Homo sapiens: one gene and its partners. The protein of the gene in region 1 purifies or fractionates together with the protein of each later gene. This does not show direct contact. Each region holds a gene or a part of one and is shown in the gene's direction. Other genes may lie near its edges.

Region 1 (7,432 bases):
CCGTTGGGCGGGGAGGGGCGGGGCCGGGCGGGGCCTTGTGGAGGAGCGTGCGCAGTGAGCTGGCTCCGGCGCTCTGTGGCCCGGGCTTGGGCTGGGCTGGCGTCCTGCACCGTGCGGGCGTGGCTGAGTTGTGTGGGCGGAGCGCGAGGGGTAGGGCTTTGTTCGTGTGGGAGGTGCACGCCGGCCAGTCCAGCGTCTTGCGGGCGGGGCTTGGGCCATGTGGGCGGATTCTGGCAGTGCGGCGGGGCGTGCGTGGTGGAGCCTGATCGTGTGGGGTGGCACGGAGGAACGCTGCCCAGTGTGGGCGGGGCGTGCGCCGTGCCGGGTTCGTCTGACAGATCCCAGGGGAGCCCACGCCCCACGTGGCCGCCAAGGGGTGACATGGGCACTCGATGGGGTCTGGGCAGAAAGCCGTGCTCCCCTCACCTCCGTGCCTCTGGTCTTCTGGTGGGTGCATTGATGGGAGTAGATGCGCTTGTGTCCTTATGTCATGGCGCGGCTCTGGAGAAGCCGCTGCGGTCCCCAGCAGAGAGTAGTGACACAGGAGTTCTGGAGGGCTGTGCCGGGCTGCAGCTTGGAGGGCAGGGCGGGGCTGCAGCTTGGAGGGCAGGGCGGGGCTGCAGCTTGGAGGGCAGGGCTTGTCTTCTGCAGGAGGGCGCTCAAGGAGGGGATGGGGAGGGTTGAGGACTGCTGGGATTGGCATCTGAGCATCAGGTGGGGACTGAGCAGCAGTGGATCTGAGCCTGGCTACTTCAGGTCCCTGAGCCAGACACTGTCCCCAGGTACAGCAGGGTCCCGGGGAGTCCAGGAGGCGGCGGAGTGCGGCACTGTCTGGAGAGTTCAGTGTATTGCAGAGAGGTTGGAGAAAATCAAGTCTTGCACGTGGCGATGGCTCAAGATTCCCTGAGGTCTTCAGTGCTGACTAAGGAGTCTGAAATGATGATTCATGTTTTACCTTTGGGGCTGAGCCAAGTGCATCTCTTTGAGCAATCGTCTTAATTTCCTTGTCGTCACCAATTATCATAACCAATTATCATCGTAAAGGATGGTAATTCCTTTAATTATACCCACCTTAAAAACATGATTCTGTTCCACAAACGAAAGGAGCACATCAGAGATGCCTTCAGTTCTGTGTGCTTGAACTTTGAATTCCATGAATTATAGTTGCACTGAGGGGAGAATCCTGTTTCCATCCTCCTGGTTCCTTCTCCCTTTCCTGTCCCCATGTTTCTCTGAGGCCTGGCAATGCTCTCTGGATACTTGGTGAGTAGCCCAGGAGGACTCAGGAGTGAGAGGCCCCTGCCTCCTGCGCTGGGAGAAGGCTGTGGGTGGGCCGTGAACCCGGCCTTGAGTGGCAGGACAGTGAGTGTCTGCTGGTGTGTTCCTACAGCAGACGGACTGGACTGAGCCCTGGCTCATGGGGCTGGCCACCTTCCACGCGCTCTGCGTGCTCCTCACCTGCTTGTCCTCCCGAAGCTACAGACTACAGATCGGGCACTTTCTGTGTCTAGGTGAGTAAAACAACACAAACTCCACAACTCAGATCACTGTGTGAAATGAAACTGTGTATGTTCTGTCTGTGTCTTCGAAATATATACATATTTTTACAAGACCTCCCAACCCTCTGTCATGTGCCTGCTCCCAGGGCACTCCCGTTTTTCACTCTTGGAAGCTATAAAGAAAACTACTTTTTGGATGTTAGAGTTGAGAGGAATCTGTTGAGTTCCTGTTGCCTACCAGGGAGGTGCTGAGCACCAGCTGCACACAGGAGAGTTGGGTTTCCGGAAGTGCTGTCTTTTACACAAGATGCGTCCTTGGTGGCAGCTGTGCTCATGCACTGCTTTGAATGGGAGGAAGATTGCAAACTGGGAAAGAAAAGTTCTGTGCATAAAATAAGGCATTGCCCAACTTGGTTTCAAGGATAAGGGCTACAGAACTTAGAGAAGTTAGGGAGTTGCACAGGATGACTGAGAAAGATTATTCAGAAAAGCTGAAATCATGGCACAGGGTGTGAAGAGTGAGTAAAATGTTAATAAGAAAAGAGAGGGAGCAGGTGACGGCCCTGGGAGGGCAGCAGCCCGACATGCAGAGACTGAGATAGATGGAAGGTGTGGATCAGAGGCAGAGAAACTGCAAGCCCTCCAGGACCTAAGCACTTCTGATGCTGAGCGTTACGAACACGTGTGGGTAGAAGAGGCGAGGAGGGCCTGGAGGCCTGGCTCAGGCTACTCTTGACTCTCAACATTGGGGAGACACTGAAGATTTTGCTTGGTAGTTAAAAATAACTAATTTCAGATAAGTTTAGTTAGCTGGCTGTGTGCAAAGCGGGAAATCTGAAGAAGAGATGATCTTAGAAAGACTGGAGAAGTGATGAGGGTTTGCATCACAGTGGGGGCCTATGCAAGTGAGGCGCTCAGAGCAAGCTCTGTATTGAGGGTGCCCTGAGGAGTGCTGGAGTGGACCAGGCAGACAGGGCTCCTTTGCCTCCCACAGCTTCCTGGGGGACACCAGCACCAGTGATTCATCACAGACCTGTGTTATCAACAGTGACAAGTGTTGCAATGGAAAAGCCAAAAACACAGTGAAACAGGAGGAGCGGCCTGATTTAAATCACACAGTCCCCTGGGAACCCAGGGGCAAAAGGTGCATAGGCAGGAGCCAGGCAGTGAGATGCTGGCAGAGGGCAGGAGCAAGTGCCCCACGCAGAGGCCCTGAGGCAGGCATCTCAAAGAAAGGTGATGGCTTCACCAGCTGAGCTCCTGGATCTGAATAGCTTTGTCAGCTGGAGAACTGCACAAAGGGTTTGATGTTTTCTAGGATAAGGGGAAGGATGACTGCTTTCACACCGGGGTAATACTAGACACTGTGCTGCCTGCCATTACATTTCCTGTGATTCATTTCTCAAACCAGCCAAGAGTTGGATTTTATTTGCCCATTTTTATAAATGAAACATGCAGAGGTTCTCTAACTCCCTCAGCTATACAGCTTATAACCAGCACCATCAAGATTCAAGATTCAGACTCTGCTCCAGGGTGCATTTCAGGAATAGCTGAGGAGGAGCACCTGGTGACACCCTCCCTGCCCGCCTTCCTCCCGTGCCTACCACCCTCCCCACCTTCCCCCTGTAACGTCAGCCCTCCACACCTTCCTCCCCGCACCCATGCCCACCACCTCCTGTGTTAGCCTACCCTTCTCACCTGCCTGGCTGTCCTGCTTCTCCTGGCCCTCCTCCTTCCCCTCCTTCCTCTCCTTCCCCCCCATCCTCCCCCTCCTCCTCCTCCTCCTCCCTCCCCTCCCCTCTGGTTCTTTCCCTGTGCATTCTTTTCCTCTGCTTTATTGAGTCCATTCCTGAAGGGAGGAAGTGGAGGGACTGCTCACCGTAGCCCCTAGTTTAATCTGCTTTCTGATGTGTATCAAGAAGAATGAAAGGATTTTTAGTTTGATTTACCTTGGAAGTTGAAGCATCACATTTTTCTTAATTTGCCGAATCATATTTTATTTGATTTTATGGTACCATGGGTCACTGTCTCATGGGTTTGAGTACCAGCATTACCCACGAATTAGCTGAAGACCCTGGGCCAGTCCCTAAAGTCTGTGTGCTCCTGGGAGCATGGAGGCCTTGCCCTGCCCCCACCAGCTGCTGCCCTCCCTCCCGTGCCTTTGCCTCCAGCACCCCAAAGCTGTTCGCTCCCCTCCTATGGTCATCTCAGTGGCAGTGTCCCAAGGTCAGCCCGGGAAGTGTGAGCGTGAAAAGCCCTTGGTTGTCAGCTCTGGGTCTCGTGGCTCTCAGCTCCTGCTGCCGTGTTCTGTGGGGCTGAACTGTGGCTGCTGTCCCTGGGGAAATGTGTGAGGTCCAGCCATGCCTGGGTGAAGCCTGGGGCCTCGGGCGGCTCCTGCAGTAGCTCTGCAGGTGCTGACCTGAGCACGGGCTCTGAGTGAGACCATAGAGCATTGGAGAACTGAAGCACTGTTGGCCTTGATTTTCTTTCTGCTAAATGGGTGAGTCCTACGACTTGACAATGTTAGGATGTTTACCTGATGTTATGTTTAAAATTAAAGTGACATTTCTATTCAGTATTCTGCTGTAAAGAATGTATAACTTTATAACGAGTAATAACGGGCCATCTAAATTCTAATATGACTTGTACCTTTTTTCAGTCATCTTAGTCTACTGTGCTGAATACATCAATGAGGCGGCTGCGATGAACTGGAGGTGAGCCCACCCCCGGGCCTGTGACCAGGTCCCTGCAGGGGTGTCCCTGGGAATGGCCCCACAGCCGGTGGGACTCGCGGAGGAGACAGTGAATCCTAACGTGGCAGCTGTGCACAGCCCGTGCCCGTGCATCCAGGGTTGGTGGGCTCCAGGGTGACTCCGTAAATGCTTTACCAGCGCCACAGTGGCCCTTTCTGAGCGTGGCACTGTGGGACAGTGCTGGCTGAGGCCTCTGATGGCAGAGCCAGAGAAGTGGCCATGGGAATTTGAGCTGCAGAATAGAAACAGCAGCATTTTAGAGAACGTGGTCCGCGCTGGCCTCAGCCATGCCCTCCCCCTTGGACTGCAGGGTGGCTGCTCCATGGGGAGTCTGGACCTGAGTAGGGGGCTTCTGGGTGGTCTGGGGCACCTGCCTGCCTCATCCCCAGCCCCACATCCTGATGTCGGGGGGCACCGCTGGCAGCCCTGGCCCTGCGTCCTCTGCCCCCTCCTCTACCCCTGGCTTCATCCCAGGGGACTCGGAACCCAGCACCTGCCCAGGTTGAACCACACAGCCTCTGTCAAGTGAGACCCACGGACTGTTTTTGAGTGGCCTGTGAGCTAAAAATGGCTTTTACGTTTTAAAATATAAAACAGAAAAAAAGTAAAACTGCCAGACCCTGAGCAGGAAGGAGCTGAGACTGTGGCCTTGTGGCCCATAAGCCCTGAACACTGATCTTGGGCCCTCACCGAAAGGGGTTGTTGAGCACTCCCTGAAATCCTTTGCTTAGACCCCGCCTGGTTTCCCGAACCCTCCCCTGACTCGGCCTCCTCCTGCCTTGCTCCTCCCTGCTCAGCCTTTCCCTCCACGACAGCGTCCCTGCAGCACTGTCTCTGCCCTCCCTCCTCCCTGCCCTCTCTTTAGCCATAAGCGGCTCACTGGGGACCCTGCCTCTCCTCCCGGATGCAGGGCCTTCACATGGTTCAGTCCCAGGAGGACCCTGCCTCTCCTCCCGGATGCAGGGCCTTCACATGGTTCAGTCCCAGGAGGACCCTGCCTCTCCTCCCGGATGCAGGGCCTTCACATGGTTCAGTCCCAGGAGGACCCTGCCTCTCCTCCCGGATGCAGGGCCTTCACATGGTTCAGTCCCAGGAGGACCCTGCCTCTCCTCCCGGATGCAGGGCCTTCACATGGTTCAGTCCCAGGAGGACCCTGCCTCTCCTCCCGGATGCAGGGCCTTCACATGGTTCAGTCCCAGGAGGACCCTGCCTCTCCTCCCGGATGCAGGGCCTTCACATGGTTCAGTCCCAGGAGGACCCTGCCTCTCCTCCCGGATGCAGGGCCTTCACATGGTTCAGTCCCAGGAGGACCCTGCCTCTCCTCCCGGATGCAGGGCCTTCACATGGTTCAGTCCCAGGAGGACCCTGCCTCTCCTCCCGGATGCAGGGCCTTCACATGGTTCAGTCCCAGGAGGGGTGTTCAGTCCCTGGTGACCCTGACCTTGTCCAGAGGCTGGCACAGGGTCATCCTCCCCGAAGCCCTCCCACACCCAGCTCCAGGGTGCAGCACCTTTCTGGCCCCTCCCTTCCCTCTGGCCGCAGCCTCCTGTCTTCATGCTTCTCCGAGATCTCCTGGTTTCAAAAGCGCTGGGTTTCTTGCCTGTCCCACCTGTTGGACTGGGCACCAGGACGTCTAACAAACATCTCAAAATTCACACTTCAGTCCGACTGCTCTGCTCCCCCCTCTTCGTAGGGGCGGCTTCTCCCTCCAGCTTCTTAGACCAGAGACGTAACAGGGCATTGTTCAGGAAGCTCCGTCCCTCCACCTTTAAGATCAGCCACGAGCCCAGTGTGTTCCATGCCCTTCACCCCACCCTCGCCGACCCGCTGCTGACATGCAGCGGTCCCTAAGCCGTCCCCCGACTGCCCAGCCTCTTGGGCATCCTGGGGAAGCGTGGGCCTCAGAGCCAAGCACTGCCCCTCAGAACGTTCCAGAGTGTCCCCAGCTCCCCCAGAGTAAACGCGGAGTCCTGCAGTGATGCCCTGCGGCCTCCTGCCAGCTCTGTCCCAGCCGTTCATGGCTGTGCCTACGACTCCACGAGGCCCCCTCACCCCCGACAGGCTTCACATTTCTCTGTAGCAGCACTCGCCACATGCTTGGACTGGCTGCCTCTTACTTCTGGGCCTCCCATGGTATAGAGTGTAAGCGCCAGCAAGGCGGGAGCCCCATGCTCATGAGGTGTTGACCCACTGCCCACCATTACTAGCTGTGAGCGCCAGCAAGGCAGGAGCCCCATGCTCACAAGGCGCTGACCCACTGCCCACCATTACTAGCTTTGTTGATGGCATTTCCTGTGCTGGCTGCTGAGAGAATCATCAACACCCACGTGCAGATCCTCTGCCCTCCCTGGCGCTGTACCTTTGTGCAGGTGGAGATCTTCCGCCTTCCTCAGTCTCTTCTGCTAAAGAGGCACTGGCACTGACAGCAAGAGGACCTGCTATGAGAACCAAAGGGATGGAAGGGCCCGGCACCACTCCTTCCCAGTGCAGCTGTGGAGCAGACGCAGCTGCTGTCCCTTTGTCATTTACGGGGAGGGGATTATTGACGTTGTTACTCTGTAGGTTTTAAGGATTTCAAGTCATCAGTGTCTTCCAGCTAAGGTCAGATGTGCTGCTGATGACCCAGAGGGCTTGCAGGGTGACGTCTCTCTGCTGGGGGAGGCCTCGGGGTCTTTCCTGTGCTGCTGGGTGGTGTCTCCCTGTCCTGTGACCCAGTGTGTTTTCTTCATAATGAGCATTCATTGCATTTGGGACAGTACAGTGGAGATTACCGCTGCTCCCAAGGGTGGGCCCAGTGAGGGTGTTGCTCCCACCTCAGTCCACATCAGCTCTCTCCAAAGTCTTATCTAAATAGACGGTGTCACTAGAACTTTTTGGTTGTATTGCCTAGTAATTTTTTGTTTTTGTTTTTTAAACAGATTATTTTCGAAATACCAGTATTTCGACTCCAGGGGGATGTTCATTTCTATAGTATTTTCAGCCCCACTGCTGGTGAATGCCATGATCATTGTGGTACGTAGATGACACTTTCAGTTGTCTTTCTTCATGTGTATGTTTTTCAAATCTAAACATGTCTCAAACAATTGTGTTTAGGTTATGTGGGTATGGAAGACTTTGAATGTGATGACTGACCTGAAGAATGCACAAGAGAGAAGAAAGGAAAAGAAAAGGAGAAGGAAA
Region 2 (7,432 bases), on another chromosome or scaffold:
CGTGGGCACCTGTGGTCAGAGCAGCAGTGAGGATCCCTTGTCTTTGCCCTTCCCCTTCCCCATGTGGTTTCTGATGGTCCACAGTCGGGCGTCTCAGCCTTGGCACTGCGGACCTTTAGGACGGCATCGTTCTTTGTTGTGGGGGCACCCTGAGCATTGTAGGAAGCGGTCAGCACCCCTGGCCTCGACCCCTAATGTCAGCAGCACCCCCACCCGCACCTCATATTCCTAGTTGTCAGTTGTGACAACTAGGACCGTCCCTAGGCATTTTCCAGTGTCCCCTGGGGGCACAGTTGTCCTGGTTGGGAATCGCTGTTCTAGTGGCACCTCTAGGCCTCACAGCAAGCTTTTGAGGTCAGCCTCTGTAGGACCCAACTTACAGATGAGGAAACTGCGCCTTGGAAGTTTTGAAACCTGTTTGGTAACTCAGACAAGTGCAGGGGCGAGGCGCAACCCTAGGAGGGAGAGAAGCTGCTGGAACCCAGCTCCTGCCTGGCGGGGCTTCGTGGCTGCTTCTACCTTAACTTCAGCCGGTGTTCTCACTCCCCCTTGGGGCTTGAGGTGTGGCCCGTGCTGTGCCTTCCTTTTATTTTGAGCTGAACCTGGGGCCCCAGCCAGTCCTTGCAGGCACAGCTACCAGCAGCAGGCCCCACTGTACCAGTCCCTTGCTCTGCGATGGGGCAAGTCGCTTGGGGCCTCTCTGAACCTCGGATTTCCTCTCTGGGAGATGGGCTAACACTAGCATCTTTTCTATGGCTTTTTTTTTTGAGACAGAGTTTTGCTCTTTCGCCCAGGCTGGAGTGCAGTGGCATGATCTCAGCTCACCACAACCTCCACCTTCTGGTTTCAAGCGATTCTCCTGCCTCAGCCTCCCGAGTAACTGGGATTACAGGCTCCCGCCACCACACCTGGCTAATTTTTGTATTTTTAGTAGAAATAGGGCTTCGCCATGTTGGCTAGGCTGGTCCTGAACTCTTGACCTCATGATCTGCCCGCCCCAGCCTTCCAAAGTGCTGGGATTACAGGCGTGAGCCACTGCGCCCAGCCTTCCGTGGCTTTGAAAATGCTTCGTAAGTTATCCCAGGCCCTTTACGTACAGAAAGATGAGTAGATACCGACATGCAGTGTCTGCAAGGGTCAGGAAACAGGAGAGCCCCGCCTTCCTCCCCAGCCTAAACATTGCTCACCCACGCTTGTGTTTGAGTGTCCCTGAGTAGGGCAGCTCCTTGGTGGCCAAGGCAGCGCTCTGGCCCCGATGATGTGGGGCATCAGAACCCGATAGAAATGACGCAGCCCTCGAGGTGAGTGTGGCCGGAACCCAGCTGCCCCACAGCCCCAGGCACTTGTGTTCTGTGTCCCTGGTCTGGGCAGCGGTTCTTGAATGCAGCTGTGGATCAGGACCCCGGGGCCTGTTCTTGCACATTCCTGGGCCCCATCTGCCTTTGCAGTCTGCATGGGATCCACATTTTTAGCAAAACCTTGCGGGGAGATGTCTGAGGCAGGGGCATCACTGCCCATGTTTGGAGAAGGTGTGTGGGTTCAAAGCTTCCATAGCCTCCTACTAAGGAATGTTTTCGAGGTTCTGAGAGCTGGGTCGGGGGGGCACTGATGATGCCAGGGACAGCCTGCTGGGCACAGCCCCAAGACAGTCCTTGCTGTGTCTCCACTCGCCCCCTTCCCAAGGGAGGCCTCCGAGACCCTTCTGGGGCCCCCTGCCTCCGCTGGCCAGAGCTCCTCATCCTTCTCAGTGGGGTCTGTGCCACCCACCGGGCCTTTGTTCCGTCAGCACCATGTGCCCAGTGCCTCCTACAGGCCTGGTCCTGGCAGAGAGCTGGGAGTCCAGACAGAGCCATCTCCCTGACAGAACGCCATCCAGTGGGGCATCGGGCAGCGTAGCGAGGTGAGGGGCTGGCCTCCATGTGGGGTTGGGCCTCGCCAGGTTAAGGGCTCCAGGCAGAGGCATTGGCAGGTGCCAGGCCCAGGTGGGGAGGATGCGAGGGATTGAGGCGCTGTGGGGCATGGGCCGGCACCAGGGTGGACCTGGGTGTGCAGTGGAAGCCAGGGGTCAGCAGACCCGGCCGCCCCCATGGTGGAGGTGCCACGAGAGGGTTGTGCACAGAGGCTGCCGGCTGCCCTCATCCACTCTTCAGACACTCAGACTGGCGCCTGCCTCCGCCCTTGTGCCGCCATGCTGCTCCCCTGTGGCCAGCTCTGCCTCATCATTAGGTCTCTGCAGGCATCCCCTCCTTCAAGAAGCCACCCTGGCCTTTCCCCCATCGCTGTCCACACATCACAGCCCTCTGCTGTCTTGACTTCCCCTGAGCCCCCCACTCTGGTTTATGGGTTGGTGCATTTTGGTGCCTCTCCCATCCTAGAAGCTAAGCCCCTCGAGGGCAGGGGCTCTGTGGTCTGCTCCTCTCTGCATCCTGGCAGATATGTGAGAAAGGCGTCACAGCTCGAGAGTCAGAATTCAAACCCAGGCCTGGCTCCGCGCGAGGCCCTTGTTCCCATGGAGGATGCAGGGTGGACAGCAGAGGCTTCTAACCTGGGGAGAGGGACAGGAGGCGCCACTGCGGGGTTCCTGGCAGGAGCTGCCTGGGCCTCTGGACAGATGCTGTGGAGGGTTGGCCGTGTGGGCTGCAGGTGTGGCCACAGCAGCCACTAGGATGGCTCAACCTTGGAAGGTAAACAGTAGTAGAGAGGGTGACGCAGTGTAGAAACTTCCCACACACTTCCCAGATGGGGTGGGGGGAGCAAGAGGCCCTGTCGTCCAGGTTTTCCTGGTTTCCACCGTTGCTGTAGGGCTGCAGGATCCACTGAGTGCACCTGCCTTTGTGCTGGAAGCCAGGGCTCCTCTCTGACCCTGAGGGTCCCTGGCTCTGGGGAGGGAGCTCGCAGGGCTCCTCTCTGACCCTGAGGGTCCCTGGCTCTGGGGAGGGAGCTCGCAGGGCTCCTCTCTGACACTGAGGGTCCCTGGCTCTGGGGAGGGAGCACTGTGTTTTCAGTGCCCACATGTTGCCAAACCGCGCTCCAGAAAGCTGCCCAGTTTCTGTCCCTGCCGAACGCAGGAGAATGCAGGGAAGGATGTTGTACTTTTTCTCCAGAGCTGCTTCCCTTGAGGGGGGCCCCTGCCTACAGGTCAGAAGGAAGCTGAGGTTCCAAGTCACCCCCCAGGCGGGCCTGGCCTGTGTAACACGCAGGCGTGCAAGGCAGAGGAGATACTGATGCCCAGGGCACAGTGCCGTGCCCTGGAAGACCACTCCGTGCCTCGGACTCTGCAGCAGCTTCTGATGCCGCGGAGGTGGCTGTTCTGTTGCAGACGGGAAACTGAGGCTTAGCGGCTTGCCCCAGGCCACCGAGCAGCTGGTTGGCAGAGCAGGCACACGCCAGGAGAGCTGCCTCCCTGAGCCTCATTTCCCCCTGTGCTGAGGGCTGGGCATGCTGTTGTATGGCCAGCCCACAGCAGGCAGGAAGTGTTGGCCTCAATGCGTTTCCACAGTGGCCTGCCCAGGTAGGGTTAAGAGCACAGCTCTGAGGCCGGCTGACTCCTGGCCCCTCCACCTCATCAGCTGTAGGACCTTGGGCAACTCACCTGGCCCCGTGTGTGAAATGGGCCTCATGATGGGAAGACCAAGCCGACGGGGTGACGCACCCAGTCACAGTACGGGTCTCCCCCCAGCGTGGGCGCTGGCGAGTATGGCAGCTGTTGGCGCCATCATCTCTGTGGTCACCGCCATTGCACTCCTTTGCTCCAGCATTCACGCAGTCACTCTCACATCCTCACGGAGCTGCTGCAGGCCAGAGTCCATGCTGGCAGGGACAGAAAGAAACCCTGTGAGGGCTGGGCACGGTGGCTCACGCCTGTAATCCCAGCACTTTGGGAGGCCGAGGTGGGCGGATCATGAGGTCAGGAGATCGGGACCATCCTGGCTAACACGGTGAAACCTCATCTCTACTAAAAATACAAAAAAATTAGCCGAGCGTGGTGGCGGGCACCTGTAGTCCCAGCTACTCAGGAGGCTGAGGCAGGAGAATGGCGTGAACCCGGGTGGCGGAGCTTGCAGTGAGCGGAGATCCCGCCACTGCACTCCAGCCTGGGGAACAGAGCGAGACTCTGTCTCAAAAAAAAAAAAAAAAACAAACCCTGTGAGGAGCAGGTGTTGGCTGGGAGAGCAGGCGTGTACATGAGCCAAGTGTGCAGTGTCACTTGGTGGGTGTTGAGTGTCAGGGAGATGAGCAGGGAAGGGGGACAGGGCTGGCCTCCCAGACATGCAACCAGGACATTCGTACCGGGCCCTGCTCTTGATCGCATGCTCCGCCGTCGTGGCTTCAAACTCTCAATCATTTGAAAACAACCATTCAAGATTTTTATTTTTGCACCAGCTCCGGGGATGTGGGGTGTAGGGCTGGGATGCGGGGGTGCAGTCTGGGAAGGCCTTGCTGAGAAGGAGACATGGAGTGGAGGAGGGAGCCTGGTGGTTAGTGCAGACAGTCAGTGCGAAGGCCTTGAGGCGGCAGCATCTGGCCAGGTGCTGTTTCTGTGCCCATCTGACCGATGAGGAAAGTCGGGGCTCGGGGTGGGGGGCGGCACGCATCGTGTACCCCACTGTTCTCCCAGCTGTATTCCCCAACTCCGTTCTGGCCCTAACCTGCTCTGCTTGGCCCCACAGGCTGACCCCGCACTACATCTACCCACCAGCCATCGTGCAGCCCAGCGTGGTGATCCCAGCCGCCCCTGTCCCGTCGCTGTCCTCGCCCTACATTGAGTACACGCCGGCCAGCCCGGCCTACGCCCAGTACCCACCGGCCACCTATGACCAGTACCCATACGCCGCCTCGCCTGCCACGGCTGCCAGCTTCGTGGGCTACAGCTACCCTGCCGCCGTGCCCCAGGCCCTCTCAGCCGCAGCACCCGCGGGCACCACTTTCGTGCAGTACCAGGCGCCGCAGCTGCAGCCTGACAGGATGCAGTGAGGGGCGTTCCTGCCCCGAGGACTGTGGCATTGTCACCTTCACAGCAGACAGAGCTGCCAGGCCATGATGGGCTGGCGACAGCCCGGCTGAGCTTCAGTGAGGTGCCACCAGCACCCGTGCCTCCGAAGACCGCTCGGGCATTCCGCCTGCGCCCTGGGACAGCGGAGAGACGGCTTCTCTTTAATCTAGGTCCCATTGTGTCTTGAGGGAGGACTTTAAGAATGACTGAGAACTATTTAAAGACGCAATCCCAGGTTCCTTGCACACCATGGCAGCCTCTCCTTGCACCTTCTCCTGCCTCTCCACACTCCAGGTTCCCTCAGGCTTGTGTCCCCACTGCTGCATCGTGGCGGGGTGTCACAGACCCTCTGCAGCCCCTGGCTGCCCTGGACTGTGCAGAGATGCCTGACTCCAGGGAAACCTGAAAGCAAGAAGTTAATGGACTGTTTATTGTAACTTGATCCTCCCGAGCTGTGAGCGCAGTCTGAGGTGTGAGGACACGGCCTCCTGTTGGAGTCCCATTTTCTCCATCAGGGCACGTGGGCGGCTTCCTCAAGCCCGGAGGAGCTCCCAGGCGCACAGGGGCCGCCGGTAACAGGGGCCGCCGGCCAAAGGCCCCTTTCCAGTCATAGCACTGAAGTTGCAACTTTTTTCTTGTAATTGTTTTGCTACTAAGATAATTTCAGAAGTTCAGTCTATTTTTTCAGCGGATACTGCCGCCACCAAGAATCCAAAACCTATTTTTGACTTGGAGAGACTTGCTTTTGTTGGTTCCGCCCGTGGAGACGACGATAGTGTTTCTGTATAATAAAGTGTCTGCCGGCTCGCGGGCCAGGATCCTCTCGGTGGGATGGGCACCACAGACAGGAGGCCCCTCAGGCCCGTGCGGGCCACTGTCTGCTGCCGCCTGCCGGGGTGGCAGAGTGAGTTGTCTCAGGACCCCGTCACTGCGACGTTGACACTCCTCTCCCTTCCCTTCCTCCCCAACTCCCCAAACACTGTGGAAGGGGAGAAGGAAGTGATCCACAGCATTCAGGCCACTTGGGGTCTAGACCATGGTGGTGCCAGCCTGGGGGGGGCAGTGGCCCTCAGCTCTGCCCGCTGGAGCGGTTGAGTGCAGAAGGGTGCGCCTCTTCCCTCTACCCCCGCACCACCTGCTGTGTGCCAGCCTGAGACGGTTCCTGCCTGTCTTGGGGGTTGGTGGAGGGTGGAGGCAGTTCTGCCAGCCGTGGCAGGGCTGCTATGGGGCATCCAGGGCTGTGGGGGTCTGGAGGAGGGGACATGAGGTGAGAGGTATCCTGGCCGAGGGCGGGGGGCAGCGGGGGGTCTCCCTCCGGACCTACCTCAGGGAGCTGAGCGTGCAGGCGCTCCAGGGCAGGCCTGGGACAGAGTCAAGGCTCAGAGAATAAAGGTAGCTAATCTCATCATAATATTTTTATTAGAATGTTCTGATGATAAAAATAAAACTTGTTTTCTTTAAAGAAAAAGTTGATCTAATTTTTCTCAAAACGCAGAGCTCCCCTCGTGCCTGTGGGCATCACCCATGCCCCGCCCTCCTGGCTCAGGAACCCAGGATTTCACTGGCAGCCGTGCATAGAGCGCCTGGCCTGCACCGGCCGCTGAGCCTCAGTAGCAGAACAGACGCAGCCCCTCTTCACACCCGCTAATGCAGGGGAGGCCTGGCGTCCCAGCCGCCGTGCATCATCCAGCATCAGCTTCAGACCCGGAGAGGACTGCGCTTGGGTTACTTCTTGGCGCTGTGGCTGGGGAGGGGCCTGGACGTGGATTGTGATTGGCAGCCCCACCAGATCCCTGTGGAATAGGAGGACAGTTCCCCCAGAGAAGGGGGGTTGCCACCAGAAGACCCTGAATGTGGGTTCCTGAGAGGACGTTGGCAGGTGTCCAGGACAGCTGCCCTTAGGGTAGAGTTGGGAGGGAAGCCTTGGTCTGGGGCTGGATAGTCCCAGCATCTGGAACTCAGAGCTGGGGAAATCACAAGGCCTTCATAGAGGAGGTGTCAGGGCTGGAGAATCCATCAACTCCTTCCTTGAATTGCTCACTCACTGTGTCATCCCGAGACGTGTGCTGGGTCACACGCAAAGCGCTGGGGATAGAGCAGACAGGGCTGCCCTTTGGGTTTATCATCTGCTGGGGGAGACACAACAATGCCCCAGGGTGATGGAGACTGACAGGTTTACGGCAGGGAGGGGATAGGGATTCTGTGGGGGTCTGCACTTCTTCCCAGGCCCTGCCGGCTGGCCCCTCCCTCCCACTGTCTCAGTTTGCAAACGCTTGTGAGGGGTCAGGGAGGGCAGCATGGGGCTTTCAGCCCGGAGGAGGAGACTTGCTGCAGCTGATAAGAACTTGGGGATCCACGGAGGGGGGCTACGGGTACTGCCAGGGTTATCGTGAAGGCCACTCGCAGCCTGCAAGTTTCCTGTCACTATCAGCTGGTGAC
Region 3 (7,432 bases), on another chromosome or scaffold:
GCAGAGCCAGGGTCCTGACCTGTGTCGGGGGGCAGTTTGCTTTCTCTGCCTTATGAGGGAAGTCCTCCCCAGCCTTCAAAGTCTCCCCTCCAGCATCACCTCCTCCAGGAAGCCCTCCCTGCCTCTCTAGCCAAGGTCAGATTAGGCTTCTATTGCTCTTTCCTTCAGAGCACTGATCTCAGTTTGCACCTTCACATTCAGGAGTATGTCTAATCTGATTACCTATCACACTCCTGAATATCACGCTCCTGAACATGAAGGTGTAAGCTTTGCCTGAAGTCCCAGAGACACTCAGCAGCGGTGCAGAATTTGCACCTGGGTCTGTCTGGTTCCCACTCACCTATCACCACAGGGCTGCGGGTCAGAGCTCAGGATCCAGCACTTGAGACTGTCACTGCTCACCCTGTCACCAACTTGCTGGAGAGAGCCTGGGTCAGCTTCTGTTCACCACTGACTCTCCTGGGCCTGGCCAGAGTAGCTGTTCAAAAGGAATTCTTGACTGGAAATAATGAGCATCCGAAAAGGCATTTCAAGAAACAAATACCACCGCCCCCAAATGGAAGGCTATAATGTTCTTATTGTTAGCAAGAAAAATAACATGGCTATTATAGCTAAATTAACTAAATGGCCTGCCACCTGAGAATCTATTGTTTATGGCAAGACAGGGCCTAGGGACATTACATTACAGGCAAATTCTTTTTCCTTTTTCTTCATAGGTTTGCTCTGGAATTAGTCACAGAAAAGGGCCATACATTTGCCGAAGAGCTTCAGAAAGTGAGTAACACCATCTCACCCAAGCTGGGAATCTTCAGCCCCGGTGGCCATCACGGGACTCAGCATCCAGCCACCAGTTACTCTTTGTGTCACCTGGGGCTAGTTACTCTCCCTCTGTGAGCTCCATTTCTTCATCTGTAAAATGCGGACAGGCCAGGTATGGTGGCTCACACCTGCAATCTCAGCTACTTGGGAGACTGAGGCAGGAAGATCACTTGAGGCCAGGAGCCTAGGTAACATAATAAGACCCTGACTCTACAAAATATTTGAAAATTAGCCAGGCATAGTGGTGAATGCCTGTAGCCTTAGCTACTCAGGAAACTGAGGTAGGAGGATCTCTTGAGCCCAGGAGGTCAAGGCTGCAGTGAGCTGTGATCATGCCACTGCACTCCTGCCTGGGCAAGAGATTGAGACCCTGTCTCAGGCCGAGCACCATGGTTCAATTAAGCCTGTAATCCCAGCACTTTGGGCGGCCAAGGTGGGAGCATCACTTCAAGCCAGGAGTTCAAGACCAGCCTGGGCAACTTAGGGAGACCCTGTCTCTACAAAAAAAAAAAAAAATTAAAAATTAGCCAAGTATGGTGGCATGCACCCATAGTCCCAGCAACTTACAAGGCTGAGGTGGGAGAATCGCTTGAGTCTTACAGGTTGAGGCTGCAGTGAGATGTGATTACACCACTGCACTGTAGCCTGGGCAACAGAGTGGGATCCTGTCTTTAAAAAAAAAAAAAAAAAAAAACCTCTGTCTCCAAAACAAACAACTGGAGACATATAATCTTCCTTCACAGGCGAGTGGGGAGGATTGTACTAAATGAGGGAATTTAAAATGCAACGGTTCTCAACCCAGGGCCATTCTGCCCCTCAGGGCCCGCTGAGCAATATCTGGAGACATTTTTGGTTGCCACATCTGGGTGTTGGGGGTGTTGCTGGCATGTAAATATCCTGCAATGCAGGGGACAGCCCCCGTCAACGAAGAATGACCCGGCCTTGAATGGCAATAGCACCGAGGCTGAGAAAGCCGGTGTGAAGTGCCTCGCTCATGCCCGATGCAGAGGGAACCTGGGAAGCCTAGCTGCAGTGAGCCCTCAGCCCGTGGGACTCATGCGTCACAGTGTCACTGTTCTGTTCCCTAAGAAGGAGGGGGCCTCTGACCCACGCAGAGAACTTCAAGCACGGAGACAGGGTCACCACCCCAGAATGCCCAGGGTGCCGCACTTTCCACCTCCACATGGACCCAGGTCCCCAGAAACCGCTCCCCGCAGGGTCAGCCCTTCCCACTTCCGTTCTGAAGCCCAGGCTGGAGCCTGCTCAGGCCCCTGGGAACAGACGGAGGGTAGTAGGTGGGGCTGCCACAGGCTGTGGCTGCAGGAGGAAGCCTCAGCTGCCAGAACATTCTGTGTGGTGGAGGAAGGCTTTCAACCTCCTGAGGAGCCGCGGTAGCAGCGGTCATTTCTGTCTGCTGTACGCGTTGGGTCGCAGCTGTCACGTCACCTCCTCAAGGGCCTTCCCTGGCCACCTAATCTCCAGCTGGGTTAGGCACTGCTCCTGGATTTCCACATCCTCTAACCACAGGCATCACAAGGGGTGTTAACCTGTTCACCCATCCACCTCCCACCCAGCCTTGGCACTGTGAGGGCGGGGACAGTGTCTGGTTCACCTGGGAGCCCCGCCTGGCCTGGTAGCCGCTCGCAGGGCCTGTGGATGAGGCCGGGCAGCAATGCCACTGCTTTCCTCATATCACCCATTTCACCCTCACAGACACCCGTGAGGTGGAAGTTAATGTCCACAGCTTATAGGGAGCCAAACTGAGCCTCAGAAAGGCTGACTTGCCCAGCCCCCACAGCCAGGCATCAGTAGAGCTGGAATCTGATTCCCAAACTGGTGCCATTTCTCCCCAGCCCTTGGGGTACACGCTGCACGTGGCCAACCAAGTGGGTAGTATTATCACTCCCGCTTTGACTGTGAAAGTGCAGAGACCCCAAGCAGGGAAGCAGCTTGCCCAAGGTCTGCTGGTCAGAAGCCCTGGGAAGGTTCCAGCCCAGTGCTGGATGGGCAGCCTCTGCTCTCACACACCATGGCCTGCTTCTTGAATGCTGTCACAGTGGCCATCTTAGGAGAGGTCAGAAGTCGCAGACCTTCACCCTCCTGGTAGCCCACCATCCAGCTTGAGTGGACCCTGGCTGGGCACAAAGTCAGAGGTGGTACTTGTGGTCTTCACATGCATGAGAGCTGTTGGACATTTGTCATGCAGGGGCCTGGAGTCCTGCAGCAGACCTTAACAGACCACTTCTGTTCCAAGCAAACCCACTCCCCACCTGGACAGAGCACAGGCCTCACCCAGCCAGGCTTCCTGCTCCCAGAATCCCCACACGCCTCGGCTGACTACATTCTCCAAGCTCCTTGTCCTTTAGAGTTTAGAAAGCACTGTCACATTTGACCTCTTGGCCCAACTGTTACAGGTTAGAAAACCAAAGCTGTCAAATGTTGAGAAAAGAAGAAAACCTCACAGGGCCTAGGTGCACAGGAGACGTGGACAGAGCCCAGACGGTTCCTCTTGACTGTCCCTGGGTGTGTGATGCGTGTCATCTGCTTAACCCAGCTGCTGCCCCCATGGGAGCCTTTTCCTCCCTCAGACTGCAAAAGAGCCACACCAGGTCCCCCTCAGCAGGGCTGGGTGTCCAACGAAGATGTTGTGCTGAAAGTTCAGAGTTTGCTTTCAAATGTCAGCCAGTTCAAGGTCTGATAGCCTGTATTAGTCTGTTCTCGCACTGCTATAAAGAACTACCTGAGACCGGATAATTTATAAAGAAAAGAAGTTTAATCTGCACATGGTTTTGTGGGCTGTACAGGCTTCTGCTTCTGGGGAGGCCTCAGGAAACCTACAGTCATGGCGGAAGGCAAAGGGGAAGCAGGTACATCTTCACATGGCTGATAGGAGAGAGAGAGTGTGAAGAGGGAGGTGCTACACACTTTCAAACAACCACATCTCATGAGAACTCTATCACAAGACAGCACTAGGGGGCTGGGGCTAAACCATTCAAAACTACCCCAATGATCCAATCACCTCCCACCAGGCCCCACCTCCAACTCTGGGGATCACAATTTAACATGAGATTTGGATGGGGACACATTGCCAAACCATATCACAGCCCTTCATGAGCTAGCTGGCACAGGCTTTGCCGGCGTATTAGGTGGCGCCTCTGCACATTGTCTCTGTCCAGCCCATCTCACATAGATCTTGACTGTCACTTTCTGTCGCCCCCCAGATCCAGTGCACATTGCAGGACGTCGGCTCGGCCCTGGCGACACCATGCTCCTCGGCCCGGGAGGCTCACTTAAGTAATTCTCAAACTCCTGTGGGTGTTCAGAGGGCCCTAGGGTCAGGGGACTCTCCTAGGGTCACCATCTGGGATCCCAGGCCCCCAGGGACCCACGGGTGGGTCAGTTAGCCTTGCTCGTAGCTCCTGGGAGGGAAGGTACCTTCTGAGCCAGTGGAAGCAGTCTGCGGGACACCCAGGTGGAAGGGCGGCGGGGGTGGTTCCCGCCATGGTCTGGTGGGTGATGGCCTCATGGCAGTTCCCTCTGCTCCTTGGCTCCTCAGAGTATACCACGTTCAAGGCGGGGCCCATCCTGGAGCTGGAGCAGTGGATCGACAAGTACACCAGCCAGCTCCCACCACTCACGGCCTTCATCCTGCCTGTAGGTACTGGGCAGGCTTAACCGGGGGCGGCTGCAGGCAGGTTCAGTGACAGACACACATGGGCTCTGAATAAATCCCTCTTTTCACAGTGACAGACGCTGTCCTCCAGTTCCCCAAGTCCCTCCAGGTCCTCACCGGTCCCTCCCAGCCCTGCCCACTCTGGAGCAGCGTGCCCGGTGGGTGTGCCGTGGCAGGGCTCCTGGAGGCAGAACACTGCCCGGTTTGGGGGGCAGGGCTGGACTTCAGAGGAGCTCCTGTCCGCAGTGGGCACACCTTTCCCACCCTGCTCAGGCAATGTCCCTTTCTCCTTTCAGTCGGGAGGCAAGATCAGCTCGGCGCTGCATTTCTGCCGGGCCGTGTGCCGCCGGGCCGAGAGACGGTAAGAGGGCTGGAGAGAGGGAGAGGGCCCAAGGGAGAGGGAGAGGAACAAGGGGGAGGGGGGAGGGAGAGGGAGAGGAGGACGGAGATGGGGAGAGGGAGAGGGGCCTCTGCACAGCGGGCAGGAGGCAGGTACAGCAGGGCCATCTCTGAGCCATCCAGCCACACATCAACAGACCTTGTCTGGGCCCCTCCACTGTGCCAGACGGGGACCAGGACAGACCAAGTCCCTGTCCTCAGAGCACCATGTTGTGAAGTGGAGACAGTGACATGTGACCAAATAGACTATCAGACAACACAATTGCACCTTGTTTGTGAGCCCTGTATTCTGAGAACAGCAGGAAGTTATTGCTGGGTTCTCAGCCTCAGCCATCTTGGGGACAGGGGTAGACATGAAAGGACCCTGCTGGCTGCTGGGTGCATAAGGCTCCTGAAAGGCCTGCATGGCTGTGGGGAGCCCAGGTGGACGTTGTCAGCAGACTAGCCACCACCTCCTCCAAAGCTACTGACAGCCTTTTCAAGGAATCTTTAGAAGAAAATGAGCAAAGTCTCTATCTACACCACTCAGAGACCAGGCTGCCAGCCAGCTTTACAGAGAAGAGAAAGCAAGCCCTACTTTGATCCAATGGACTGGCACTTTATGTTCATAATTTCATTTACTCCTTGTTGATAGCCCTGGGAGAGAGGTGGTGGTGGCCTCTGTTTTACAGGAGTCAGGAAGCTGTGGCTCAGAGAAATGACACCATGGTCACGGTCCCCCACATGGTTGATAGCAGAATCCAGATTGGAGTCCACGTCTGTCTGGGCCAAGCCTGAGCTCTTCCACGGTCCCACACCACTAAGGTTTTGTTCTTTATGAAAGGCTCTCGGGCCCAGATAGCTCCTTAGAGATCCCAGGTAACAGAACAAGCTTTGGCTTCAAAAGAAAAAACTGTCATTTGTACAAAGCCATCCATCAGCAGTGCTCATAATAGCAAGAAACTGGAAACAACCCAAAGGCCCCGAAAACAGGCATGGCGGAGCAGCTGATAGGTCCTCCATGCAGCAGAGAGTTACGCAGCCATGGCAGTGGCAAGGTGCAGATTGTCCTGAGGTGGGGACACACACCTGGGGCACCTCGGGTGAGGAAGCTCCTCGCTGAGCATGCGGTGCCCACTAGAGACAGCCTGGAGCTCTGTGACAGGCCTGGGTGCACACCCTCCTGGGCCGCTAGCCGGGTGCATGGCTTTGGGTGGGGATGAGAACCCTGAGGCTGGGCTTTGGGTAGCTGGCTTGCCAACAAGGGGTATGCCACAGGGTGATACCTGGGAAAGGCTCGGCAAGGGCCCGCCACCACACTGGTGCCCAGCAGATGGCCGTCCAGTGTCTAATGTATCTGCAAATAGACTGGCATGGACCCCAGGAATCCAGAATCCTGCGGAATCAGGAGCTTGGTCTGCCTGGGTCTTTTTCTCCCCTGTGAAGTTGTTCTAAGTCATGATGTACAAGGGGCTTAGAGTTTAGCCCATTGGGAATTAAGGGTCAGGCCCCCACTTCCTTTGAAGGCTAGAGGCAGACCACCCCAACTTCACCCCACCCAGACCCAGGTCCAGTGGTACAAAAGCTGGCTGGCTGGGGTGTGGTGTAGGCCAGGTGGCTCCCTCAACTCACCAGCCATCCTTGATCCCTCCTTGGCCAGGCCGTCCTGCGATGTGCTGGTGGAAAGGGGGCCGATGGCCTGTTTAAACCCACCTGTGATGGATTTGTCATCTCCACTGCCGGCCGAGCCTGTGCAGGTTCAGGTTGAGCGGTGGCAGGATGTGAAATGCTGCTCAAGGTTTAGGCCCAGGTCAGAGCCTGTTGAGCCCCATAATGTCACGTGACTCAGTGTCTCCTCCCTTTCTAGTGTGGTGCCTCTTGTCCAGATGGGAGAGACCGATGCGAACGTGGCCAAGTTCTTAAACAGGTACTCGCGTGGAACCTGGGGGTTCCTCTCTGAAAGCCGAGGCTCATCTGTGGGAAGTAGCAGCGGTGCAGCGGTCCGGGAAGCAGTGTGGGGCAGCATTCCCGCACCCCCTCCTTCATTCCCTTAGTGTTTATGAACATCTGCTCTGTGCCAGGCACCACGCCGGGCACAGGGGAGGCAGTGGTGAACAAGGTGGGCCCTGTGCCTGTCCCGATAAGATTTAGATCTTATTGGGAGAGGCTGCTGTAAAAACCAGGAAGAAAAACCTAAGTGCAAAGTGGCATTGCGGGGGCAAAGGGCGTTCTTAGAGGCTGGGTGCTCAGGGGAGGCCTCTCGGTGGTGACTGACCAGGGAGCCAGGCTTCAGGCCCTCTCTCAGCCAGTTTCCTGTCCCCGAGAGGGCCTGCGGCAGCATGAACCAACAAGAGAGCCGGGCCAAGCTGCGCTCAGGGGACCCCATGCAGGCCCCAGTGAGCCAGGCTAGCCCAGGGAGGGCTTCCTCTGCCTCGCGGCCGGCCCATGAGGCTGGAGCCACACCTGGCCCAAAGCCTGCTCTGCGGGTTCCTGCCCCAGCCCTGGCTTCTGTGGCATCAGTGTGGGCAAGGCCAGAGCCTGGGGGCAGGTAGAGAGCTGGGG
Region 4 (7,432 bases), on another chromosome or scaffold:
GTATTTGCTGACTTCTTTATAATGAATCTGATCCTCTGGGGAGAAGGATCTTCAGCAGCTATTCCTTTTGGGACACTGGTTGCCATATTGGCCCTTTGGTTCTGCATATCTGTGCCTCTGACGTTTATTGGTGCATACTTTGGTTTTAAGAAGAATGTAAGTTTATAGGTGTTAACTTATTCAGGTGAATTTTAGCTGCAGAAATTAGCATATGCCATCTCAAAAGATACCATAAAAGTGTGTAAAGATGTAAACTTGTCCTTTAGGATCTGGATTTCATAGAATATTTTTAAAATAGTAGTATTATTTAGGAGCGTGGTAGAGAGGTTACAGATCTAAACTTAGGTTTCAAAGTTTTTTAAGTGAATAGAAGCTAATATAGATTAATTGGGAAAGAAATGCTGATATAAACTAATGAAAACATTCATTCATTCATTCATTCATTCATTTAGAGATGGAGTCTCATTCTGTCACCCAGGCTGGAGTGCAGTGGCGCCATCTCGGCTCACTGCAACCTCCACCTTCAGGGTTAAAGCGATTTTCCTGCCTCAGCCTCCCGAGTAGCTGGGATTACAGGCATGTGCCACCACACCCAGCTAATTTTTGTATTTTTAGTGGAGACAAGGTTTCATCACGTTGGTCAGGCTGGTCTTGAACTCCTGACCTCAGGTGATCCACCTGCCTGGGCCTCCCAAAGTGCACAAAGCTTAGCTAAGTAAGCAGAGAAGAAGTCACTGTAAGAAAAGTAGCTGCAGAGTAAGAGTAGCAAATGTTTGTGGTTGATATGTAGCTTTGAAATAAATTGTATCTGCTGGAAATAAATTGTATCTGCTTCCCTGCTAATATTGGATTTTAAGGAAGATTATAATCAGGTTTCAGTCCTTCCTCCAGTTTCCCTCTCACCCTCCAGTCGGCCTTCTCTCACTTTGCTGCCCACTCCTGCCCTCAGGCTAAAAGAAAAACAAAAACGAGATCTTATTCTTCTGTCTCATCAGTATCCTTCTCTAACCGCACTTCAGTATCCCTGTCCTCTGAAAATATCAAGTCCACAGGGTAAAAGAAAGACTGTGTGGTTAGTACACTTTGTGAGCAGGACCCGGAAGGCCCTGGCAGAAGCTGGCACTGTTCCACAGCCTCCACTGCACTTTCATGCCTGGCTGCTGAAGGATTTTTTTAAACTTCTTCGGCATTTTGTTTAATTTATGACTTTATACCTCAGAAGTAGTGAACTGACAGGGTTTGAATTTTTTAATTACATTGATTAAACAATTACTTGAAATTCCAAAACTTTGCTGGTTTGAAGTTTATAGTATTTCTATTTAATATCAGCCTTGGAAATAAATAAAAGTTGATATACATGATTCTCTGCCTGTATACTCATGCATCTACATGTAAAATAATAATCTAGTCTGTGGAAGTATGGTCTTAATGAAAATATCAAGTTTTAAATTTTGGTTTATCATCACAAAAACTATAGAAGGATATTTTTGAACTTTCTTACAAGGAAATGACTTTCTACATCTGTACTGTCTTCCCCCCTCATGTGGCTGCTTGTGTCCTTTAGGTTCCAGTGATTTTTATACCGCCATGTAGTGTGTCATGAAAGGGAGAATAGTCGAGAACATCACCAACTCCTTATGGTCGTAAAGCTTCATACAGCCATTCATTGTTGTTTTCATGTTCTTAAGTCTTAGTAAAATTGAGCAATTTTAGTAAAGATGACATTGCGCACCTCCAAATAAAAATACATGGACCAAAATTCCAGAACCAGCTGATTTCTTACAGTACATGTGTAATGAAAATGAAAAGCCTAACTCTACCTTTTTATTAACTATTATTTTCCAAGTATTCTCTTATCTCCTGTGTACTTTTTCCTGTGTCTAAAGCCATTAGTCAGTAGATCACTGCTGGAGACAGTATTAACTTGTTCCAGTAGACAGACTGAGTATTGTACCTGATGGTACCTGGATGATGGCTTCCAAAGACAAATTTCAGTTTGATGTCTTAAGTAGACTTTATTGCCATTAGTGACAACATAGAAGCTGAAAAAAAGCAGGCAAATAATCTCGTGTAGAGAAGAATATTTGAGACAGATACGTAATTATGAATTCTTCCTTCCTTTTTTTACTGAAGGCCATTGAACACCCAGTTCGAACCAATCAGATTCCACGTCAGATTCCTGAACAGTCGTTCTACACGAAGCCCTTGCCTGGTATTATCATGGGAGGGATTTTGCCCTTTGGCTGCATCTTTATACAACTTTTCTTCATTCTGAATAGTATTTGGTAAGCTAAGGATAAAGTCCTCTCATTCTCATTACCATTATATGTAATATTTCCTTTTTGTTTGTTTATATGGGTTACTATTTGTATCCTGTAAATGTAAGCAGTTCTTCAGTAACCAGAAATCTTAAAAGCCAAAAGCTTATTTTTATCTTTTCCATGTTGGAAGAAGAACAATAGTGATAACAGCTAGTATAATATGAATTCAAGGCTTGTTAATTCTTACTCTTCCTTAATTCTTACTACTTCATTCTCTGTGAGGTGAGTGTTATCCCCATTTTACAGAGCTGTAAATGAGGCTTTGTAAGTTGAGTAATTTGCTTGTGTTACACAGCAACCCTGTGACAGAAAATTCACCGAAGTTTCTCCAAACCTATGTTCCTAACTAATCTGCACTGTTCAGAGAAGATCCTCTGAGCACTTGTCGGAGGGGATTGGTGAAGGGATTGGTCTAGGTGACCTGCAGAGTCCTTTGCAATTCTCAGATGCCTTCATTCTCCGATTGCTTGTTCACATGTAAAAACTCATAATAGTCATTTTGAGCCATTCTGTGTGTGTGTATATCTATATATAGTGTTATATCATGATTGTTATTGGATCACATTGACGTATGTTACAGGAAGTACCAAGGTTGGAGGTTACAGAAAGTTAGAACTAAATTTGAGCTTTTTAATGATTAGAACATATCTTTGCTTCTTAATCGTTATACTAATTTTCCAAATTCAACTGGTTTTATTATATGTGATAAGAAACGGTTACCTATTCTTAGTTGGCTCTGCCTTTTCAGTCACTTTTTATCAAATATCTCTGGCTCACCAGGAGACGAGTAGTCTAGCCATATGTAAATAAGTAGAAGTTTCAGGCCTCCCTGAGCAGGAAGGTAAAGTCCAGTGATACTGACATATCCTTCCTACTCCTCCCCTTCCCCACCCCATCACCATCCCAACCTGTGATAATTCGTCTTGTTTGGTTAGTTGAGAGAAAAAGCAAACCTTTTCAGTTCAAGAAGAATGAAAAGATTGTGTTATGTATTGTGTCAAATTGAAAATATTTATAGTTCCTTCTTGACGTGTTTGATTATAGGTCACACCAGATGTATTACATGTTTGGCTTCCTATTTCTGGTGTTTATCATTTTGGTTATTACCTGTTCTGAAGCAACTATACTTCTTTGCTATTTCCACCTATGTGCAGAGGTATGTATTAGCAGTATTCACTTATGTTAATTTGTAGACAGTAACTTTGGCATATTGCAATTTGTATATTATTAATTAAAATAATTTCTGTAGATGTATGTTTATTATGATAGACATTGACCTGTATTCCTAAATCAAATGTAACCTTCTTTAGGATTAAGATATCCCAGTTCAGTATATTTAGTTGGAAATTACTATTAGAGACTTTAACTTGTTAATTTTCTGAGAATAGTATGTTGTGCTAACTTTTTACTGTTGTTTTTTAACTGACTTAAAAATTAATACTTTTGTGATACAAATATTTATATCATGCCTGAGATAAAAGAATATAAAATAATCTATTAAAAAATACAAAAAAAATTTTAGACTGAAAATTTAATAAAAGTAAACTAGTAAGAAAATTCATTAAAAAGTTTCTATAATCACATTGTAATGAGTTCTATTCATGGCAGCACCAAAATGATAGTATCCTTATGTAATAGGTAGAATTGAATTTTAAAGATTTAGGTTGTGTTAAATCTACTATTTAATATTGTCTATATTGGAGAAAAAGCTAACTTTATTAAACTTAGTGTGTTATTCAAAAAATGGAGGTTAAATTTACATAACAGAAAATGAACCATTTTGAAGTGGACAGTTTAATGGCACTTACTGCATTTACAGTGTTGCGCCACCACCACCTCTGTTTAGTTCCAAAATATTTTTATCACCCCTAATTAAAGCCCTATACTTGCTGAGCAGTTGCTCCTCATTCCTCACTTCCCCCAGGCCTTAGCAGCCAACGGTCTGCTTTCTGTCTGTTTCGCCTGTTCAGACATTTCTTACAAATTGAATCATATAATATGTGACCTTTTGTGTGTGGCTTCTTTGACTTAGCATGTTTTCAGGGTTCATCATATCATGGCATGTATAGTAGTACTTCATTCCTTTTTTTTTTTTTTTCCTTTTTTTCTTGAGACGGAGTCTCGCTCTGCTGCCCAGGCTGGAGTGCAGTGGTGCAATCTCAGCTCACTGCAAGCACCACCTCCCGGGTTCATGCCATTCTCCTGCCTCAGCCTCCTGAGTAGCTGGGACTACAGGCGCCTGCCACCATGCCTGGCTAATTGCTTCTTGTATTTTTGGTAGAGACGGGGTTTCACCATGTTAGCCAGGATGGTCTCGATCTCCTGACCTCGTGATCCGCCTGCCTCGGCCTCCCAACGTGCTGGGATTACAGACGTGAGCCACCGCGCCTGGCCACTTCATTCCTTTTTATGGCAGAATGATAAATTTGTTTATCCATTTATCCATTGGTGGGCATTTGTATTGTTTCTACTTTTTGGCTGTTGTGAATAGTGCTGCTGTGAACATTCATGTACAAGTGTTCGTTTGAATACCTGTTTTTGGTTTTGAGGTATATATCTAGGAGTGGAATCACTGGGTCATATGGTAGTTCTGTTCAATTTTTTGAGGAACTACCAAACTTTTCCACAGTGGTTGTGCCGTTTTACATTCCCACCAGCAGTGGTGTACAAAGGTTCCAATTCTCCGTATCTTTGCCAACACTTACCTTCCATTTTTGAAAAAATTGTAGCTGTCTTCGTGGGTGTGAAGCGGTGTCTCATTCTGGTTTTGATTTGCATTTCCACAGTGACTAATGATGAGCATTTGTACTTGTGTTTGTTAGCCATTTGTATATCTTCTTTGGAGAAATAGCTATTCAAGTCCTTTGCCTATTTTTAAATTTGTTTGTCTTTTTGTTGAGTTGTAAGAGTTTATTTATTTATTCTGAATAGTAGATCTTTATCAGATTGTTATTTGCAGTTCTGGTTCTATAGGTTATCCTTTTCACTTTCTTGATAATGTCCTTTGCACAAAAGTTTTAAATTTTGATGAGGTCAAATGTATCTGTTTTTTTTTCTTCCGTTGCTTATGCTTTTGGTGTCATATCTAAGAATTATTATCAAATTAGGGCTGAGTGTGGTGGTTCACGCCTATCTCTAATCCCAACACTTTGGAAGGCTGAGGCGGGAGGATCGCTTGAGCCCAGGATTTTGAGACCAGCCTGGGCAACATAGTGAGATCTTGTCTTTATAAAAAATAACAAAATTAGCTGGGTGTGATGGCTTACTTGGGAAGCTGAGGTGGAAGGATCACTTGAGCCCAGGAGGGCTTCAGTAAGCCATGATTACACCACTGCACTCCAGAACCTGGGCAACAGAGTGAGACCCTGTCTCCTACCCCACCCCCGACCAAAAAAAAGAATTATTGCCAAATTCAAGGTTATGAAGATTTACCCCCATGTTTTCTTCTAAGTGTTATAGCTTTACCTCATGTATTTAAGTCATTGATCTATTTTGAGTTAGCTTTTGTATTTTGTGTGATGTAGTGTCCAGCTACATTATTTGACGTGTGGATATCCAGTTATCCAGCACCATTTGTTGAAGAGGCTGTTCTTTCCTCATTTAATGGTCTTGGCAATCTTGTCAAAAATCAATTGACCATAGATGTATGGGTTTATTTCTGGACTCTCAATACTATTCCAGTGGTCTATATGCTGCCCTTAGGCCTGTACCACACTATTTTGATTACTGTGGCTTCGTAGTAAGTTTTGAAATCAAAAAGGCTGAGTCCTCCAGCTTTGCTCTTTTTTATGATTGTTTTGACTATTTGGAGCCCCTTGCAATTCCATTTGAATTTGAGGATTAACTTTTCCAATCTGCAAAAATTGAATCATTGGATTATTGGAATTATGATAGGGATTACATTAGATCTGTAGATCATTTTGAAGAGTATTGCTGTCTTAACAGTGTTAAGTCTAATAGTACGTAAACATGGGATGTCTTTCCATTTGCCTAGGTCTTCTGTCATTTCTTTCAGCAGAATTTTAGAGTTTTCATTGTGCAAGTCTTCCACTTCCTTGGTTGAATTTATTCCTAGGTATTTTATTCTTTTGGGTGCTATTTTAAATGGAATTGGGTTTTTAAATTTTCTTCTCAGATTGCTCATTGCTGGTGTGTAAAAACAAAACCGACTTTTGTATGTTGATCTTATACCCTGCAATTTTGCTGCATTTGTTGATTAGCTGTTGCATTTTGTGTGTGTGTGTGTGTGTATGTGTGTGTATTTAGGATTTTCTAGTCTCAGTTTGCTTTTCGAATATATTTGTTTTTCACATATTCCAAAGGGCAAGAGAGATAGTGAAGTGTTCTCTTTTAAAAGATCTTCTGTTAAGCTATAAGCCACTTAAAAGCAAGAAGAGCTATTTTAATCATCTGCCTTGTTTAAATTATGTTAGTAATAGCTGAAATTGGATTCCAACCAGGCCTTAGTAGAATAATCTTCTTCCTAATACAGAGTTGACCAGACTTTAATACAAGTAGTATTAATGTCGAGCCCTGTGAGTAAGTTGTAAGCTATTTGCACATCGCTTTTCTTTGGGAAGAATAAATTTTGAAATACAGCCTAATGTTTTATTATTCATAAACAGTTTAAGCTGCTTCCACACATTTTTAGCCAGTTTTTAAGCAGCCCCACCAAAGACAGTGGGTGCTTCTTAGCACCTTTAGTGAGGAGAGTGGAATGGGTGAAGTTCAATAGGAGAAAGAGCCTGGAACTGATAGCAGAAATTAGATTGGGGGCTGTCTCATTTATTATGCTTGCTTTGAACCTTAGTAAGCTACATCTTATCTATTAATTGGAATGTAATTCTTGTTCTTTTTTCTTTACTACCTAGGATTATCATTGGCAATGGCGTTCATTCCTTACGAGTGGCTTTACTGCAGTTTATTTCTTAATCTATGCAGTACACTACTTCTTTTCAAAACTGCAGATCACGGGAACAGCAAGCACAATTCTGTACTTTGGTTATACCATGATAATGGTTTTGATCTTCTTTCTTTTTACAGGTAAAATTATAATTTAAGTGATTATTTTTATTTTGTAAGTTTTTAGACAAATAACTTATAAATGTTTG

Evidence for each region.
Region 2: the proteins of TMEM18 (region 1) and RBM38 purify together in Homo sapiens (affinity purification with mass spectrometry; one large-scale study listed by BioGRID and IntAct). This does not show direct contact.
Region 3: the proteins of TMEM18 (region 1) and MMAB purify together in Homo sapiens (affinity purification with mass spectrometry; one large-scale study listed by BioGRID and IntAct). This does not show direct contact.
Region 4: the proteins of TMEM18 (region 1) and TM9SF2 purify together in Homo sapiens (affinity purification with mass spectrometry; one large-scale study listed by BioGRID and IntAct). This does not show direct contact.

Annotation. Positions count from the first base shown.
Region 1 is NC_000002.12:669,589-677,020, reverse strand, and holds part of TMEM18 (transmembrane protein 18), read left to right. Parts: intron 1-316; exon of another isoform or gene 317-381; coding exon of another isoform or gene 382-447; intron 448-782; exon of another isoform or gene 783-1,245; coding exon of another isoform or gene 1,246-1,263; intron 1,264-1,390; coding exon 1,391-1,511; intron 1,512-4,158; coding exon 4,159-4,213; intron 4,214-7,170; coding exon 7,171-7,264; intron 7,265-7,345; coding exon 7,346-7,432.
Region 2 is NC_000020.11:57,402,873-57,410,304, forward strand, and holds the end of RBM38 (RNA-binding protein 38), read left to right. Parts: intron 1-4,670; coding exon 4,671-4,974; 3' UTR 4,975-6,461; downstream 6,462-7,432. UniProt on the Homo sapiens protein: RNA-binding protein that specifically bind the 3'-UTR of CDKN1A transcripts, leading to maintain the stability of CDKN1A transcripts, thereby acting as a mediator of the p53/TP53 family to regulate CDKN1A.
Region 3 is NC_000012.12:109,558,461-109,565,892, reverse strand, and holds part of MMAB (corrinoid adenosyltransferase MMAB precursor), read left to right. Parts: intron 1-716; coding exon 717-774; intron 775-4,040; coding exon 4,041-4,113; intron 4,114-4,375; coding exon 4,376-4,473; intron 4,474-4,563; coding exon of another isoform or gene 4,564-4,650; intron 4,651-4,788; coding exon 4,789-4,853; intron 4,854-6,737; coding exon 6,738-6,797; intron 6,798-7,432. UniProt on the Homo sapiens protein: Converts cob(I)alamin to adenosylcobalamin (adenosylcob(III)alamin), a coenzyme for methylmalonyl-CoA mutase, therefore participates in the final step of the vitamin B12 conversion.
Region 4 is NC_000013.11:99,552,171-99,559,602, forward strand, and holds part of TM9SF2 (transmembrane 9 superfamily member 2 precursor), read left to right. Parts: coding exon 1-156; intron 157-2,133; coding exon 2,134-2,285; intron 2,286-3,365; coding exon 3,366-3,477; intron 3,478-7,192; coding exon 7,193-7,364; intron 7,365-7,432. UniProt on the Homo sapiens protein: In the intracellular compartments, may function as a channel or small molecule transporter.